Linked DNA regions of Homo sapiens. The protein of the gene in region 2 purifies or fractionates together with the protein of the main gene of each other region. This does not show direct contact. Each region holds a gene or a part of one and is shown on either strand. Other genes may lie near its edges.

Region 1 (3,500 bases), on a different chromosome or scaffold from region 2:
TATGTTTAAAGAAATAATTAGGTCTCAAAAAGGATAAAACTCAACATGAAAGCCAAATAAGTCAAGAGATAAGCAAAGATCACCAGGTATAAAAATCTATATAAACTGAATATGTATGCAATGATTCATTTATTTGTTTACTTATTTATTTCATTATTTTTTTAAAGATGGTCTTGTTCTGTCTCCAAGTGGCTGGAGCGCAGCTCACAGCAGCCTCAACTTCCTGAGCGCAAGTGATCCTCCCATTTCAGCCTCCCAAGTTGCTGGGACTGCAGGCATGCACCACCCTGCCTGGCTAATTTTTAAAAAATGTATTTGTAGAGACAGGGTCTCACCATGTAGCCAAGGTTGGTCTTGAACTCCTGGCCTTAAGTGATCCTCCTGCCTTAGCCTCCCAAAGTGCTGGGATTACAGGCATGAGCCACCATGCCTGGCCAGCATTTAAAACACAAACCACTCAACAAAAAATAAATAATATACAGGCCTATTTTTAAGCAATTAAATTCTTACTCATCTTACCTTCCAGCCAGTTACACTGAAAGTCTTTCCAGCACTTCCTATTGTTATTGTTCTCTCCCACATACCTGGAAAAGTAGCTAAACAGAGGAGGAAAAAAGGGTAAATATTGTTTTCCAATTAATCACATTTAGTATAATCTAAAAACATAACAAAGATACATAAATTCAATGAAAATAAGTGTGTTATAATTTAGCCAGTATAGTTATTTCTAGTTTTTTTTTTAGATAATGTAACTTTAATGCAAAACACAGACGAAAAGTTTACAATACTGTAATGTTGCACCAAGATAGTATATAAATAGATTTAATAATTTTAAAATTAGTTCTGGGGCAGGAGTGTCAGGGGCACCAGCAGGCAGTGTTCCAGACTGCCTTAAGTGGCAGCTGTCACAGGAGCTGTAGCATTCAGTGTTCAATGTTAGCAGTGACTGCAGGTTCGATAAAATAGGCCAGTGGCAGGGCTTAGGTTGTGATCCTGATTATTGTTTAGGCCCCTTTATTTTGCCTATTTTCTGAGTGTATTTCTCCAGGCTTCCTAGAGCAATGGCTCTTAAAATGTGATCTCACACTAGCAATATCAGCATCACTGGGCAACTTGTAAGAAAGGCAAATCACTGGGCCTCATCCCAGACCTACTGAATCAGAAACTCTGGGAGTGGGACCCAGTAATCATGTGTGCACATGTGTGTGTGTGTGTGCATGTGTGTGTGTATGTGTGTATGGGCGTGTGTTTTGCTAACAACTTTATTGGGATATAAATCCCATAAATTCACCAATTTAAAGTATGCCATTCAGTGATTTTTTTAGTATATCTATAGATCTGTGCAACTATCACCATAACCAATTTCAGAACACTTTTTTTATCTCAAAAGAAGCCCTGTACCTTTTAGCTATCACTCTTTAATATCCTCATGGCCATTGTGCCTGAATGAAACTTATCAAACACACATATTTTCTCCGTAAGGAACATCACAGCCTTCTTGCACTTAGGAATACTAGACAGCACTTCAGCACTAGGCTTGGGGGCCATTTTAAACAGCAAAATCACTGTACAGAGAACAATTGCTTATAGTGTGAATTGAAACAGAAGCATAATGTTGCCTTGTTTGACCTCGACTGGGAATGTGTGTAGGGTGACTCAAATTTCCCCTTTATTGATTTTGGAATTACACATATATTTTAGGAAGTAGGCAAATTTGCAAATACAGAACTCAAGAATAATGTGAATTGGCTGTATAATGGTTTTCAAGTTGTTTAACATCTTTAATAAAGACATTGATTCATTCATACATCAAATATTCATTAGCAACCACCAGGTGCTAAGGACTAAGGTCTAGAGGAACCAAAAATGAATAAGATGCAATTCTTCAAAAAATTTAATGTCTAGTAGGGACATGAGCCACATACAATGACAACTGTAATGCAGTGTGATAAATGCTGTAGTAGGAGGCATGGAGGGTGATGCAAGAATAGAAGAGGGTGTTGAGGGTGGCTTTCTGCAGCCAGTAATTCTTAAGCTGAGACATAGAAGACCACATAGGCTGTAGCCAGGCAGAGAAGGGGAATGAAGATATTTTGGGCTAAGAAAATGCAGGTAACAAAGGTCTAGAGGTCTAAAATGCAAGAGTTTGTAAATTTTGCTAGACATTGGTAATAACTGGTAAATTACCATTCTGTCACTCTTCTGACAATGCCACCCACAATACTGCTTTGTGGATTCCTCAAGTAATTTACTTGTGAAGTTCTTTCCATGCAACCCACAAGTTTTTCCACTTGTTTTTCAGAAGCACAAGTGGGGGCTCTTGTATTGTCCTTAGAGTGTTGGTACACACAAAGGGAAAATAAATGCTCATCTCTGGGAATCTAAGCTTCTGCTTTCTTGAAGTAATCTGCTCATAAGCAAGTAAAGTGCCTACTAAAATGTAAGGCAGCTACAGAAATTTCCAAAACAACGTATAAGTAATTTCAGTCTACCCTGAAATACCTGCTAAATTTGAAACAGTAGGAAAAGCATATAAATCAGAAAAGTTATAATTTTATTCTCTGTGGAATATGACAAAACCCAAAAAGATAAATGAGAAAAATAGTTAGAATGTCCACTTGAAGAAGGAATACTTTAAGATTTGATATAAATAATTATATCCCTTCTGAGACATTTCTGGTCTTCCAAAATACTCCAAAAGAACACTATGACACATGCCCCACTTTTCTATTTGATCAGAGAAAATCTAAACTACGTATAATGCAGATTATCACTTCCTTTAAAGTAAAGGATACATCATATATTAAAGGACTACTGTTGCACTTTGCAAATTGATGTAATGGCCATTTTGTAGCCATTTTGCATCTTTAATGTAACAAAGACTATTGTATTCGATAGAATACCTAAGTTTTAATGCAAACAAATTGCACTTTCTAAATAATGAAATAGTGTATCCATTTTTTGGTCTTATTTAAACTTTATGGGCTGCTACAAATAAAAAAATCTAAGTTCAAAATATACATCTTGCATATCTTTAGTAAATACTGTTGCATATCTTTAGTAAATAATGTTACCAGTTATGCTTTACCCTGAAGGGCTTAAAATGAGTAGATCTAAACAATAAATTTCAAGATGATCTAAAGTGATTTTTTGGGATGAATATTGCTACACTGAGTTAATTACAACAAGAAAGTAATTGTTCATGTTAATCTGATTTTCCACTGGGAAACAGTTCAAATTACTTGAGACAGAGGTCACCAACAAGATGGGCAATTGTGGCCTCTGATACAATTTAAAACATGATAACATTTTGGTGTATTAAGGTGTCACACCCTGCAAATCTCTGGCTGCCTTCTCTGTTTATATATTCCCCTTGAGAAAATTCATTCTCTTCCATGTGTCCAGCTACCACCAACATTTTGATGACTGCCAAAAATATATCCCATTATAATTTGATTCTGACGATCAGGCCTATAATTCCACTTGTCCCCAGATATCTA
Region 2 (3,500 bases):
AGAACTGCCTTATTTGATACATAAAGCTTTTCCCCTTCATAATTTTTATTGACTTTTGTGTCTTAGTGCTTAAAAAAGAATAAAGCATTCCTCAAACAAGTTTTTCAAATATAGAACTGTGGGAAGTAAAAGATCAAAGAACAATAATAAGCAGTCCAACCTAATAAGTCATATTGATCAGTAAGCTGTGTATCTTCCCCATCTGAAAATTCACTAATGAGAATCAGCAGTGGCTGATCTTAAAATGCTTTGAAACTGTGATAGGCTCATATGGAAAGTAAATGAAGTGAAAGACAAGCCTCAAACAGTGCAAAAATAATTCTGCTAACCTCTTCGGTTTACTAATTAGTAATACATTTTGTTCTTTGGAGCCCCGAGAAGATCTAAATGGCTGAGGCATTTAAATAATGAATAGAAAAGAAATAGGGAAGATAATTTATCCTTGTCTATTTTTAATTAGTATAAACATTTGACTAGATTAGCCTATGTCAACGTGTACTGGAGCTGAAGCTAAACTTCATTTAAGACACATGTGAAAGATAAGAACTACTAGTCAGAGACTGGGTCATAACTACCAGCAGTCAATCCAAAGAGGCTTTTAGGTATATTTTTAACGCTGTGGGTCTTGAGATCATCAATGAACATTTACTCAATGCCCACTTAAGGAGTCTCTTTTTCTATTGAATATAGTGTATTGTACAAAACAATATTTAAAAAGTGTATGTTTTAGAAATATTTGGAAGTTCACACAAATACAAAATCCAAACACAACTTACCGTAACTTCCAGTCACATTGGCACATATAACAGCCCCAAAGAATTCTGGAAAATGCTTCTGGATTCTTGAAATCACTTTTTGGCAAGCTATGGTTGGATCTTCTCCTCTTCTCATGTATTCTACAGCTTGGTAGCTGATTGAAACAGAGGTGAAACCTTAGTGTCTCAGAATAAATACTAACTCCAAATTGGGTTACTTGAAGTTAGAAATTAAAACCACCAAAATTGCCACATGTGATAGAATACACATAAATGAACAAGAGTCGGTTACTTCTGTTAAAGCATCCACAAAGCAAGTCCACTTTGATACAGAGTCTATCTTTTCAACTAATCCACCCATGAATTTCAGATGTGGAATATTATTTTTGGCTTTGGCTGAATAACTGTCAGTAATGATACCGACAGTCAAATGTAATGGCCAGAACTCAAAAAGAATACAGATTTTCAATGAGAAAAACAGCTACAATCAAAGGGGAAAGTAGTGTGCATGGGCACAACATCTAGCTAGGGTGGTTAAAGGTACACGATGACTGCACTTCCTACTTTTACCATCAATTATCACAGCTCCTTTACTCAGTAGCTTTACATCAATTACTAAATAGATCATAAGTATTCTCATCTGGGAAGCAGGGTGAGAAATACTACTTTATTTCACAGGACTATGATTACTTAACTTGAATGATTATCATTATCAAAATGATAGGCAACAAGTTTGTATGCAGTTTCTAAGAAGCTCTTGTGCACAGAAATTCAGGTTACACAATACAAAAATTATGTTTTCTTTCTTTTATTTTCTTGAGACACAGTCTCATTCTTGTTGCCCACACTGGAGTGCAGTGGCGCGATCTTGGTTCACTGCAACCTCTGTCTCCCAGGTTCAAGCGATTCTCCTACCACAGCCTCCCGAGTAGCTGGGACTATAGACTTGTGCCACCATGCCCAGCTAAATTTTTTGTATTTTTAGTAGAAACGGTCAGGAGTTCGAGACCATGTTGGCCAGGCTGGTCTCAAACTCCTGACCTCAGGTGATCCACCTGCCTCAGTCTCCCAAAATGCTAGGATTACAGTCGTGAGCCACTGCACCCAGCCTCAAAAATTATTTTCTATCTTAAAAGAAAAAAATATCTTCTCCAAAGGTCTCTAAAATTCACAAACTAAGAAGTCATACCTTGGCAGGAAGCGCATCAATATATCACCATTCCCAGTGGCTGCGGCTGCCCCTGCAGTATCGTCAGCATAGGCTCCAGCTCCAGGTATTGGTGAGTCTCCTACACGGCTTTGAGAGGGTATTAACAATTTACGGCAGGAAATCGAGTGTAAAACACATTAAGTCATAAGCTGTTCCAAATAAGGGATAGTTCCACTTAGCCTCTGATACCGTTTTAAGTAAATTCTTCATCGGAACAAAGACAGAACAGGTCTTCATTAGTTTTTTAACTAAGGTTTTCACAAACCTGCATTAATTATGTAAGAATTTGTTATCAGACGTGGAGTGTACAACAGCTGAACTCACAGAAACAGAGACTAAAATGGTGGTTACTGGAGGCTGGGGGGAGGGGGACCTGGCGAGATGCGGGTCAAAGGACACACAATTCCAGTTAGGCAGGAGGGTAAGTTCCAGAGGCCTACTGCGGATCATGCTGACTAAGGTTAATAACAATAGAGTGCACATTTGAAAACTGCGAAGTAGATTTTTTTTTTTTGAGACAGGAGTCTTGCTCTGTCACCCAGCTGGAGTGCAATGGCATTGATCTTGGCTCACTGCAACCTCCGCCTCCTGGGTTCAAGCGATTCTCCCTGCCTCAGCCTCCTGAGTAGCTGGGACTACAGACACGAACCACCAAGCTCAGCTAATTTTTTGTATTTTTTTTTTTTTCAGTAGAGACTGGGTTTCACCATGTTGGCCAGGCTGGTCTCGAACTCCTGACCTCAGGTGATCTGCCTGCCTTGGCCTCCCAAAGAGCTGGGATTACAGGCGTGAGCCACTGCACCCAGCTGAAAACTGCTAAGTAGATTTTAAGTGTTCTCACCATAATAAAATAGGTCTGTGAGATAATAAGTTAAATAGCTTGATTTAGCCATTCTACAACATATACATATATCAAAGTATCATGTTGTACACCACAAATACACATAATTTTCATTGTCATTAAAATTAATTTTTTAAAAGAACTTGTTATCAGCCAGGTATATACCAGGATGGCACAGATTTACAGTGACTATTCTATTATTACCATCCTTTATCATCTAATTTCCAGATGATTGCAACATGTTCAAAATTGGTTTCCCTCATCTATAATCTATTTCCGCTTCCTATGTAATGTGCCAAACTTTTACCAGATTTTTTTCTAGTAAGAAATGTTTAATGCTTTTCTATTTCAAAATTAAATCCAGAATGCCTTCAACTGACTTAAGACTCCTTAAATCTGGCCCCAGTCTTCCCTTGTAGTCTTATCTTCCAATACCACTTCCCCTACCCCAAAATACACACACACCCCCACACCCCTTCTTCCCTAGCCAGTGGGAGCCCTGAATACACACACACACACCCACACCAGTGGGAGCCCTGAGCGTGCACGCACACGCACACATACACACACACACCCCTTCTTTCCAAGCCAGTAGTTCTGCGTGCACGCACACACACACACACACACACACCCCTTCTTTCCAAGCCAGTGGGAGTTCTGAACACATGCACACATACACACACCCCAGTGGGAG
Region 3 (3,500 bases), on a different chromosome or scaffold from region 2:
ATTAGCCAAGTGTGGTGGCATGCTCCTATAGTCCCAGGTACTCAGGAGGTGGACACAGAAGGATCACTTGAGGCCAGGAATTTGAGATTGCAGTGAGCCGTGATTGCACTACTGCTCTCCAGCCTAGGCAACAGCCAGACCCTGTCTGGGGGAAAAAAAAATTCCATAGACTACTAAAGTTTAAGAACTTGTGAAATCTTTTTACTATCAGAAATCTCTTTTGTTACATATGTATTACTGGCCAAGACATCTGGAAGTTCAGAGATACAATGCTGATAATCTGCTTTCCAGATTTGGTTTACAAATGGTGGGTTTTATTTGGTCTGCCATAGTCTTGACACTGTACTCCAGCCTGAGCAATAGAGTGAGACCATGTCTCAGAACAAACCAAAACTGCTTAAAGATTTATTTCTTTACTACAATAAACCTACCAAAAGTTTTTCACGTGTAATGAAAGAAAATTAATCTCACTTGAAACTCATTTTCTTAAAATATCGTTGATATAGATGAGTAACGAAAGAGGCTTTGAAAATGTAGAACTGGGAGTCATAGGAAAAAAGAAGAAAGTCCCAAGGAGAGTCATCCACTTTGTTAGTGGTGAAACAATGGAAGAATATAGCACAGATGAAGACGAAGTTGATGGCCTGGAGAAGAAAGATGTTTTGCCTACTGTTGATCCGGTAGGTTTGATATTGATGATTCTTTCCTCAGTGGGCTTTGTTTTGATTTATTTTTTTTCCCTAAACATTGAGTGGAAGGGACCTTTTGAGGTTTAAATCAACTATATTCTTATTATAAAATTATGTATGGTGATTTTGATAGAAAATAATATTTTTACATGATATGGACGGAAATATTTCCAGCATTTCAGTAGCCTGAAACAGCTTGTTTTTCAGTGTCAGAGTACTGTGTTAGTATGGATAGATTTAAGATTGATCAGCCAGGCGCGGTGGCTCACACCTGTAATCCCAGCACTTTGGGAAGCTGAGGTGGGTGGATCACCTGAGGTCAGGAGTTTGAGAACAGCCTGGCCAACATGGCAAAACGCCATCTCTACTAAAAATACAAAAAATTAGCTGGACGTATTGGTGGACACCTGTAATCCCAGCTACTTGGGAGGCTGAGGCAGGAGAATTGCTTGAATCTGGGAGGTGGAGGTTGCGGTGAACCAAGGTTATGCCATTGCACTCCAGCCTCGGGGACAGAGCGAGACTCTGTCTCAAAAAAAAGATTTATCTTACTAAATTGAGTGCTTGAATCCCAGTTCCTTTGATTTAAGGACTGTACTGCCATGATAGTTTCCACCCAAAACTTAGGGAGTTGTCAGCTTTTTAAAATACTGCCTCAACAGGAGAATGGCATGAACCCGGGAGGCAGAGCTTGCAGTGAGCCGAGATCGCGCCACTGCACTACAGCCTGGGCAACAGAGTGAGACTCCATCTCAAAAACAAAACAAAACAAAACAAAAGTTTGCTTCAAGTTTTGATTGGAAGATAAGAATATACATTTCTGAACTTTGTGTGCCTTATCAACTAACTTGGAGAATTTCTAAATTATACAAGATGTGACTGTACAATTATGAGACTAGCTATATATTTATAAAGAAATTTTTATTTATTTATAAAGAAATGCCCTTCAAGTAATTATTTTGAGAGTCCAGGTAATCACATATTTACTGACTTTCTAACAGGTACTATTTTAGGTGCCGGTGATATAGCAGTGGGTGATATAAATTTCTGCTCTCATATACTAGTGAGAAGACAGGCAATAAATAAATATATACTATAATTATCAGGCTATGAAAAGTGCTATAAAGAAAATTAAGCATAGTTACAGAATAGAGAATTGTTTATATTTGATTTTAAAAATGTTACTCCTTTTCATCAGATTTGGCTTTAAATATTTGGCTATTAGAAAATCATGCCAGGTGTGGTGGCTGACACCTGTAATCCCAGCGCTTTGGGAGGTCGAGGCAGGCAGATCACCTGAGGTCGGGAGTTCAAGACCAGCCTGACCAACATGGAGAAACCCCATCTCTACTAAAAATACAAAAAAATTAGCCAGGCATGGTGGTGCATGCCTGTAATCCCAGCTACCCAGGAGGCTGAGGCAGGAGAATCGCTTGAACCCAGGAGGCGAAGGTTGCGGTGGGCCAAGATCGTGCCATTGCACTCCAGCCTGGGCAATAAGAGCGAAACTTGGTCTCAAAAAATAAAAAAATAAAAAATAAAATAAAAAATGATAAGCAGGCCAGGAGCAATGGTTCACGCCTATAATCGCAGCACTTTGGGAGGCCGAGGTGGGTGGATCACCTGAGGTCAGGAGTTCGAGACCAGCCTGGCCAACATGGTGAAACTCTGTCTCTACTAAAAATACAAAAAATTAGGCAGGCGTGATGGCAGGCGCCTGTAATCCCAGCTACTCAGGAGGCTGAGGCAGGAGAATTGCTTCAACCCGGGAAGCAGAGGTTGCAGTGAGCCGAGATCGTGCCATTGTACTCCAGCCTGGTCAACAAGGGTGAAACTCCATCTAAAAAAAAAAAAAAAATCGGATATTCTACACAGAAAATATTCAAAGATTGTACCATATACTTTGAAGGTAGTTCCAAATGCAGGTAGAATATTAGGGGTACATAACTAGGACTAGAATTGCTGGGTCATGCAATAACTGTTTTTTTTTTTTTTTTGAGACAGGGTCTGTCACTCAGGCTGGAGTTCAGTGGCACAATCTTGGCTCACTGAAGCCTCTGCCTCCTGGGTTTAAGCGATTCTCGTGCCTCAGCCTCCCAAGTAGCTGGGATTGCAGGCATACACCTCCACGCCCGGCTAATTTTTGTATTTTTTTTAGTAGAGATGCAGTTTCACCATGTTGGTTAAGCTGGTCTCGAGCTCCTGCCTCAGCCTCCCAAAGTGCTGGGATTACAGGCATGAGCCACCACACACAGCCCTAAGTCTATGTTTAGATGTCTGGGGAACTGCCTGACTGTTTTCCAAAGTGGCTGCACTATTTTAAATTCCTACCAGCAGTGTGTAAGGATAATGATTTCTCCACATATTCAGCATCACTTGTTACTATGTGTCTTTTTATTTTTTTGTTCTCTTGTGCCTTTGCTATGTATCTTCTTGATTTTAGCAACCCTAGTGAATATGTTATTTCATTGTCGTTTTGATTTACATTCCCTTGATGGTCAGTGATGTTGAGCATCCTTTCAGGTGCATATTGGCCATTTGTAATCTTCCTTTGCTTATTTTGATTAGGTTATTTATTTATTTTTATTTTTTGAGAGGGAGTCTGGCTCTGTCACCCAGACTGGAGTGCAGTGGCGTGATCTTAGCTTACTGCAACCTCTGCCTCCCTGGTTTAAGCAACTTTCCTGCCTCAGCCTCCTGAGTAGCTGGGACTACAGAAACGCACCACCACACCCAGCTAATTTTTGTATTTTTAGTAGAGACATGCTTTCACTATGTTGGCCAGGCTGGTCTTAAACTCCTGACCTCAAG
Region 4 (2,788 bases), on a different chromosome or scaffold from region 2:
CACTGCATTAGCGAGGATGGTCTCGATCTCCTGACCTCGCATCTGCCCGCCTCAGCCTCCCAATGTGCTGGGATTACAGGCGTGAGCCACCGCGCCCGGCCTTATGTATTTATTTTTTTGAGACAGAGTCTCGCTGTGTCGTCAGGCTAGAGTGCTGTGGCACGATCTCGGCTCACTGCAACCTCCAACTCCCTGGTTCAAAGGATTCTCCAGCCTCCACCTCCCGAGTAGCTGGGATTACAGGCGTGCACCACCACACCCAGCTAATTTTTGTATTTTTAGTAGAGACGGGGTTTCTCCATGTTGGTCAGCCTGGTCTCGAACTCCCGACCTCAGCTGATCCACCCGCCTTGGCCTCCCAAAGTGCTGGGATTACAGGCGTGAGCCACCGAGCCTGGCCAAACCATCACTTTTCATGAGCAGGGATGCACCCACTGGCACTCCTGCACCTCCCACCCTCCCCCTCGCCAAGTCCACCCCTTCCTTCCTCACCCCACATCCCCTCACCTACATTCTGCAACCACAGGGGCCTTCTCTCCCCTGTCCTTTCCCTACCCAGAGCCAAGTTTGTTTATCTGTTTACAACCAGTATTTACCTAGCAAGTCTTCCATCAGATAGCATTTGGAGAGCTGGGGGTGTCACAGTGAACCACGACCTCTAGGCCAGTGGGAGAGTCAGTCACACAAACTGTGAGTCCATGACTTGGGGCTTAGCCAGCACCCACCACCCCACGCGCCACCCCACAACCCCGGGTAGAGGAGTCTGAATCTGGAGCCGCCCCCAGCCCAGCCCCGTGCTTTTTGCGTCCTGGTGTTTGTTCCTTCCCGGTGCCTGTCACTCAAGCACACTAGTGACTATCGCCAGAGGGAAAGGGAGCTGCAGGAAGCGAGGCTGGAGAGCAGGAGGGGCTCTGCGCAGAAATTCTTTTGAGTTCCTATGGGCCAGGGCGTCCGGGTGCGCGCATTCCTCTCCGCCCCAGGATTGGGCGAAGCCCTCCGGCTCGCACTCGCTCGCCCGTGTGTTCCCCGATCCCGCTGGAGTCGATGCGCGTCCAGCGCGTGCCAGGCCGGGGCGGGGGTGCGGGCTGACTTTCTCCCTCGCTAGGGACGCTCCGGCGCCCGAAAGGAAAGGGTGGCGCTGCGCTCCGGGGTGCACGAGCCGACAGCGCCCGACCCCAACGGGCCGGCCCCGCCAGCGCCGCTACCGCCCTGCCCCCGGGCGAGCGGGATGGGCGGGAGTGGAGTGGCGGGTGGAGGGTGGAGACGTCCTGGCCCCCGCCCCGCGTGCACCCCCAGGGGAGGCCGAGCCCGCCGCCCGGCCCCGCGCAGGCCCCGCCCGGGACTCCCCTGCGGTCCAGGCCGCGCCCCGGGCTCCGCGCCAGCCAATGAGCGCCGCCCGGCCGGGCGTGCCCCCGCGCCCCAAGCATAAACCCTGGCGCGCTCGCGGGCCGGCACTCTTCTGGTCCCCACAGACTCAGAGAGAACCCACCATGGTGCTGTCTCCTGCCGACAAGACCAACGTCAAGGCCGCCTGGGGTAAGGTCGGCGCGCACGCTGGCGAGTATGGTGCGGAGGCCCTGGAGAGGTGAGGCTCCCTCCCCTGCTCCGACCCGGGCTCCTCGCCCGCCCGGACCCACAGGCCACCCTCAACCGTCCTGGCCCCGGACCCAAACCCCACCCCTCACTCTGCTTCTCCCCGCAGGATGTTCCTGTCCTTCCCCACCACCAAGACCTACTTCCCGCACTTCGACCTGAGCCACGGCTCTGCCCAGGTTAAGGGCCACGGCAAGAAGGTGGCCGACGCGCTGACCAACGCCGTGGCGCACGTGGACGACATGCCCAACGCGCTGTCCGCCCTGAGCGACCTGCACGCGCACAAGCTTCGGGTGGACCCGGTCAACTTCAAGGTGAGCGGCGGGCCGGGAGCGATCTGGGTCGAGGGGCGAGATGGCGCCTTCCTCTCAGGGCAGAGGATCACGCGGGTTGCGGGAGGTGTAGCGCAGGCGGCGGCTGCGGGCCTGGGCCGCACTGACCCTCTTCTCTGCACAGCTCCTAAGCCACTGCCTGCTGGTGACCCTGGCCGCCCACCTCCCCGCCGAGTTCACCCCTGCGGTGCACGCCTCCCTGGACAAGTTCCTGGCTTCTGTGAGCACCGTGCTGACCTCCAAATACCGTTAAGCTGGAGCCTCGGTAGCCGTTCCTCCTGCCCGCTGGGCCTCCCAACGGGCCCTCCTCCCCTCCTTGCACCGGCCCTTCCTGGTCTTTGAATAAAGTCTGAGTGGGCAGCAGCCTGTGTGTGCCTGGGTTCTCTCTATCCCGGAATGTGCCAACAATGGAGGTGTTTACCTGTCTCAGACCAAGGACCTCTCTGCAGCTGCATGGGGCTGGGGAGGGAGAACTGCAGGGAGTATGGGAGGGGAAGCTGAGGTGGGCCTGCTCAAGAGAAGGTGCTGAACCATCCCCTGTCCTGAGAGGTGCCAGGCCTGCAGGCAGTGGCTCAGAAGCTGGGGAGGAGAGAGGCATCCAGGGTTCTACTCAGGGAGTCCCAGCATCGCCACCCTCCTTTGAAATCTCCCTGGTTGAACCCAGTTAACATACGCTCTCCATCAAAACAAAACGAAACAAAACAAACTAGCAAAATAGGCTGTCCCCAGTGCAAGTGCAGGTGCCAGAACATTTCTCTCATTCCCACCCCTTCCTGCCAGAGGGTAGGTGGCTGGAGTGAGGGTGCTGGCCCTACTCACACTTCCTGTGTCACGGTGACCCTCTGAGAGCAGCCCAGTCAGTG

What was found.
Region 1: the proteins of AGA (region 2) and KYAT3 fractionate together in Homo sapiens (co-fractionation; one large-scale study listed by BioGRID). This does not show direct contact.
Region 3: the proteins of AGA (region 2) and FAM177A1 fractionate together in Homo sapiens (co-fractionation; one large-scale study listed by BioGRID). This does not show direct contact.
Region 4: the proteins of AGA (region 2) and HBA2 purify together in Homo sapiens (affinity purification with mass spectrometry, with the first as the bait; 3 studies listed by BioGRID). This does not show direct contact.

Annotation. Positions count from the first base shown.
Region 1 is NC_000001.11:88,954,630-88,958,129, forward strand, and holds part of KYAT3 (kynurenine--oxoglutarate transaminase 3), read right to left. Parts: intron 597-3,500; coding exon 520-596; intron 1-519. UniProt on the Homo sapiens protein: Catalyzes the irreversible transamination of the L-tryptophan metabolite L-kynurenine to form kynurenic acid (KA), an intermediate in the tryptophan catabolic pathway which is also a broad spectrum antagonist of the three ionotropic excitatory amino acid receptors among others.
Region 2 is NC_000004.12:177,432,438-177,435,937, forward strand, and holds part of AGA (N(4)-(beta-N-acetylglucosaminyl)-L-asparaginase isoform 1 preproprotein), read right to left. Parts: intron 2,053-3,500; coding exon 1,945-2,052; intron 911-1,944; coding exon 777-910; intron 1-776. UniProt on the Homo sapiens protein: Cleaves the GlcNAc-Asn bond which joins oligosaccharides to the peptide of asparagine-linked glycoproteins.
Region 3 is NC_000014.9:35,052,772-35,056,271, forward strand, and holds part of FAM177A1 (protein FAM177A1 isoform 1 precursor), read left to right. Parts: intron 1-506; coding exon 507-680; intron 681-3,500.
Region 4 is NC_000016.10:171,423-174,210, forward strand, and holds HBA2 (hemoglobin subunit alpha), read left to right. Parts: upstream 1-1,453; 5' UTR 1,454-1,490; coding exon 1,491-1,585; intron 1,586-1,702; coding exon 1,703-1,907; intron 1,908-2,049; coding exon 2,050-2,178; 3' UTR 2,179-2,288; downstream 2,289-2,788. UniProt on the Homo sapiens protein: Involved in oxygen transport from the lung to the various peripheral tissues.